Homo sapiens: one gene and its partner. The protein of the gene in region 1 purifies or fractionates together with the protein of each later gene. This does not show direct contact. Each region holds a gene or a part of one and is shown in the gene's direction. Other genes may lie near its edges.

Region 1 (2,265 bases):
AATGAGTAGGCAGCCAAAAAAAAAAAAGTAAGGATGTTTTTTTTTTTTTTCCCATGGCATCATATTTAAGAGGATGGATTTAAATTGTGTGAGACCAAAGCATAGAGACTAGATAAGAGGCGATCAAAATATTTCAAAAAGAAATAATGAAGATCCAATGAAGGAAGTGGAAATTAAAATAGGGAAGAGAGTAGATGGATTAGAGAGACATTTAAGAGATGGAATCAATAGATCCTGTTACTAGATAATGGAAGTAAGAGGTGAGGAAGAGTGGAAAAGTCATTAATGACTCTAAGATTTCTGCTTGGCTGCTTACCAAGATTGGCAACAAAGGGAGGGAGAAGGTTTGGAAAAAGAGAGAAGGATAATGAGTTTGACTTTACATAGAATGAAGGGCATCCAGATAGAAATCTTTGGTTAATAATTAGAAATATAGACCTAGAAATTAGGAGGAAACCTGAGACAGAGACAAATATTTCAAAGCTTACAATACAGAGATGATACCTGATTCTATTGGAGCAGGTTTGATCATCTAGGCAGAAATTAGGATGAGAAAAAAGGAGATCCAATAATACAACCTTATAGTCACAGAAGTAAGAAAAAAAGGGTAGTTGTTTTGAAGAAGCCAGGATAGGTGTGGAAAGTACTCAAAAAGAAATCTTCAGGGATAAAATAAAGTGATAATTTAAAAGAAATCAATGGATTAAACATATTGAAACTGTTCTATAGGCAGTGGTCATTGAGTCAGCTTTCAGTGCATTAGGAAGAAGATGCATAGGTGTCAACTCTTTTCTGACAGCATTTACTAGAGAAGAGAAAAAGCTGGGGACTACATCTTCAAGGAAGGGACTTTTTTTGGATGAGCAGTTTTGAGTGTGTTTGTCAGTTAAAGAGAGGAATTAGGTTAGTTTTCATTTGGGAAAAATTGTATATATATTTAATGTAAGTTATCACATTGCATCTTAAAAATATTCTTATTTAATACATATATTTCCTACATGTATATGTGGTAGCATGATAGCAAATAACATTTGTTTGGTATTTCCAAAGGACTTTCATGTACATTGCCTCATTTTACCTTTACAGCTACTCTGAAATACACAGGCATTATCCCTTTTATTCAGCTGAGAAAACTGAGCTTCATTGAGGTGGAGGTCAAAAATCACAAAATTTGTGATGAATTAAGATTTGAACATATGTTTTGTGACTCCAGTTTTCCTTTCAGATTTTAAAATTAATTAAAGGGATCTTCATTATACTTTTATTGTTAACTTTTTGTTAACATAATTTATTCATACATTCAGTGAAAATTTTGTTGAGGTACTGGGACAGGTTAAAAAATACAGTTGTAGCCCTCAGGATATTTAATATCCAGTGAAAAGTGACAGTCAGTAAACCAACAATCTCAATACTTTGATATATGTTGTGAGGTTGTGATAACCGATTCTTGTTTAGTTTAATTCTATATCTCCCTTAGACCAGTGTTAAATTTAAATAAAACACCTCATTTTTTCCAATTCAGGGAAGGCACTAAACATAAAGCATAGGATAGAAATGTTGAACTCATCCAAAATATTATTTTGTTTAATGAAAATGATGAAGATTAAGGAATACTTCCATGTATTGAGTAAGGTTGATAATTTTCTAATTCTTCACTGTGCATTATTTTGTTTGAAGTTGGTAAATTTGGAGTATCCTGCAGACACATTTTGCTTTATGTACTACAACATTCTACAACCAAATAAAAATTATTTTGATTATCTGATTTTGGATTATCTCTGCCAAAGTATATAATGAAAGGTTGTCTCCTTGCTGCTTTACTGAATGAAAAGTGTTGATTTAGTAACTCCAAACTATCAGGTTATTAAATAATCATCTTATTGTGTCTACAAGATAGCTGTCACTCTCACATATTTGTATGTAGGTTTCTAGGACTTTTGGGGTACAACAACAAAGATTTCTAGTAAGTTTTGTTTTTGTTTTTAATTTTATTTTAAATTTATAAATAACAATGGTACCTATTCATGAGATACATAATAATGTTTCCATTCATATAATGTACAGTGATCTGACCAAGGTAATTAGCATATCTATCATTTCGAACATTTTTCTTTGTGTTACGAACATTTAATATGTTCCTTCCAGCTATTTCAAACTATATAATATACTATTGTTAACTATAGTTATCCTACAGTGGTATAGAACACTAGAACTTATTCCTCTTAAAGTTTTGTTTTTAATCTAAGCACTGCTACTAACTGCACA
Region 2 (3,500 bases), on another chromosome or scaffold:
GAACAAATGCCAGCAAAGATGCAATTAACAAGAAAGCAGGTGATCAGGTGTGGCGGGGAAGTGCCAGGCTGGGAGCTAGAAGCAATGAATTCTAGGTCTGGTTTTGCCACTCTCACTCCCTGCGTGGGTGGCCTGGGAGACTCACTTCATCTTTGTCTGCCTCATTTTCCTCATCTGTAAAATGAAGAGGTGTGGCCAGCCTAGATCCTCTCCAAGATCTTGTCCCACTTTCAAGGTTTATAATTTGCACAGATTGCGAAAGCAAGGTACTTGGAAATAAGTTCTTAAAACTGCATTTGTATTACTGCTTGAACTTCCATCTATCTCACTTTCCTATGGTTAAAATAAAGTTCCTTTTAAACTTTTAAGTGCTGAAAGATGTAGCGTTTTCTACATTGCAACTATAAACGAAGTTCTCCTTGTTAAAATGGTTACAGGGTTTTCACAGAAATGGAAGAAGACCCTTGTGACAAGGCAACAGAATGAAAAAAAATTTGTAGCAATTTTAGCACTTTCAACAGAAGTCATTAGGCACATTAAATTTATTATATAGGAATTGCTAATCTCTACTCTGGTACTTGCAATTTTATAGCATTTGATCATGCAAAATGGTCTGTGTAGGAAGTTTGTATTTTTTCCAGGTCATGTATTGTTAACATTGCTGAGGTTTGTTTAAATGCTTTGATTGTCTTGCAACACAGTCATGTGGCAACTGTGGCCAAAGTCATCTTTTGAGCTACCTCAGACCAGATCAACTTTATAGTGTTTTTAGGTCACTTGGGACTAATCACAGAGCCACTGATCAGATTTACCGGGCAGTATTTGATTGATTACTTAGTGGGTGATTTTTTGCAACTACAACCTTTTCCATGTACAGACCTTTTCTGTTTCCTTTAGCCAGCATCAAACAATGCTCTTGCCACTGGGACCCCAGATACTAAGGGCTGTATGACCTTCCCAGACATGAAGGAGAATTTTCTGAGAAAGGAGCCAGTCAGCATAGGAACAGGAAGGCAGATCTCTTTGCGTTCATGCACTGAGGATTAGCATGCAAAGGAAGGGACTCACTCAAAGGGAAGGTCCGCCAATGGTGAGAGAAAGCCCCAGAGATGTTAGGATGTCAGATGTGCACTGATTTACATCTCCAACAGGGACCTGGATCTAAGCCTTGAATTGCAACACAGCATTAATTGTATTGTGTAATTAACTACACTAAAAGCCACAATGATCTTGTATCCACAATCATTTAGACTAAATGTATCTCAAAATGTTGTGACAAGTGAATGAATAATGCTTTAGTGAAATAAAATGGTAAAATGAACATCTCCTCACCATTTGATCCACTCCTAAGATCCATTTGTAGGTGTTTGCAGCCAAACTCCCTCAGCACATTAAGATCTTAAACACCATCTTTCTATACAAAGGAAATCACTAAAAGTATAGTTTGTTATTGACTATGCAAAATTATTCTAGTTTCTCTTGGAGGATAATAAATACGTGCTTGGAGGAGCTACTTGTGTTTGTTAAAGCAGTTTGTGTGTTTTCATATTATTATCAGTGCGATTAGCTCTCCACTGGTGGAAGTGTTAAGAAGCTTTCAGGGATCTGGGTTTAGGCTTCTCTATTTGGTGAAGAAATAACTCATTACTTCTTGTACATGTTGAGTTTTACTTGTAGATGAACTTGGCATTACTAATATTAAATGTGCTGTGGAAGGAAGCCAGGTTTCCTATTCTGAAAGTCTGTCCACAGATTCCCCAAACCTTTTGTGAAGAGTTTCTTTATGTTTTCCCAGTGGCAGGCACACTGGGTGAAACACTCAACAGGCTTTCATTTTTGCCTCAGTATACCCTGCTGACCTCAGTATACACCTAATGCCAGTCACCTTTCCCTGGGGTGTGATGTCACCTGTAGGCCCTTGCCCCTGCCCTGAGGGGAGAAGGAGTAAGGTTGTGGGCTTTAAAGAAAAGTGAGAGGCCCACCTGACTTCAGGGGGCCTCGTGGTATATTTGCAATGGGAACTGGCCTGAGCGCATGGCTGTACTTATCAGGGACATATGGAGAAGGAGGAAGCCCATGGAAATGACCAGTGAGCATGAACAGAGTCAATAAAACATTATTTTTGGATAATGAACTCGCTTTTTCAGACTCTGAGATATAATCGATTTAAGTCCATCCTACACACAAGCCATATATCCCATAAAAGGGAGAATTCTGAAGAAATGTTTAAAGACCAGGAGTCCTCTCCTCCATCTTATTCTCGTCTTTGCATTCTGAATTTGTGTCCAGGTATAAGGTGCAAATTGCAATCCTATTCATCATGCCTTTGACTCTTGACACACGTTTGGGTACTGGCCAAAGGGAGTCCTCTATCTTAAGCAGTGGAGCTTACTTTCTAATGCCAGGGTGCATGTCCTACCTGAAGACCTTCAATGTCACATTCGGCCCTTGTGTCTGTGTGTGTGCGCCTGAGGCTTTGGGGGAACACTTCGAGTTTAATCCCTGTACTGCTCACCCCGGGGTAGTAATATCAATTCATTTCCCTTAGAAACATGCTGTCCTGGCTTAGGCAGAACCTCAGGAGTTCATGTAGTTCAGCTCTGCTCCCAGAAAGGGAAGCCCTGACTGCCTGAATTTACCTAATTGTCTTTGGAGTCGATCAGTAACTACCAGACTAAATAGGTAGGTAGACCTTTATTAGAACAGTGAAGCTTTTTAAATCTGAGGACCCTGTTACACTCTTAAAAATTACCGAGGACCCCAAAGAACTGTTTCTTTAAAAAAAATGTAGATTATATCTATCACTATTTACCAAACTAGAAATGAAAACCAGACACATTTTGAAATGTTCATTTACTAATTTATTAAAATAATATAATAATTAAATACTAATATGAATAATATATATATTAAAAAACATTTTCTAAAGTGAAAAAATGTAATGAGAAGAGTGATATTGTTTTTCATTTTTGCAAATCTCCTTAATATTTGGCTTAATAGAAGGGATGTCATATAGCCTCTGGAAAACTCCGCTGTCTATTAGAGATTGAGAATGATAATGTCTTAGTATTATCATGAGAATAGTTTTAACCTCATGGACCTCCTGAAAGGGTGTTAGGGACTGCCAGGAGTCAAGACACAACACTTTGGAAGTTGCTGTGTTAAAATTAAAGAGCTCTGAGATGTGACAAGATGCCTAGTTGCTGCTATATCCACTTTACCAGGCTACATATTTTGAAACTGTTCCCTCTTTTCTTTAACTCCCATATTACTTATTATACCACTCACATGTCTTGGGCAGCTCTGTATTCTAGTTATTTGTCTGCATATCTGCCCAAAGAGACTATGAGCTTAGAGAAGGAGGAGGTCCACTGATCCTTGTAACACTCTGGGTAGTGTCTTACACACAGATGCGTATTATAAACGCAAACAATAACCGCTGCTGTTTATTAAGTATTGTTATGTGCTGGGTGTCCTGCAAAGGCATTAGTTACTTTAAG

The links. Proteins that work in one complex are often made in the same cells at the same time.
Region 2: the proteins of LACC1 (region 1) and SERPINB5 purify together in Homo sapiens (affinity purification with mass spectrometry; 4 studies listed by BioGRID and IntAct, with this or other methods). This does not show direct contact.

The regions. Positions count from the first base shown.
Region 1 is NC_000013.11:43,892,168-43,894,432, forward strand, and holds the end of LACC1 (purine nucleoside phosphorylase LACC1), read left to right. Parts: 3' UTR 1-1,765; downstream 1,766-2,265. UniProt on the Homo sapiens protein: Purine nucleoside enzyme that catalyzes the phosphorolysis of adenosine, guanosine and inosine nucleosides, yielding D-ribose 1-phosphate and the respective free bases, adenine, guanine and hypoxanthine.
Region 2 is NC_000018.10:63,479,958-63,483,457, forward strand, and holds part of SERPINB5 (serpin B5), read left to right. Parts: intron 1-3,500. UniProt on the Homo sapiens protein: Tumor suppressor. It blocks the growth, invasion, and metastatic properties of mammary tumors.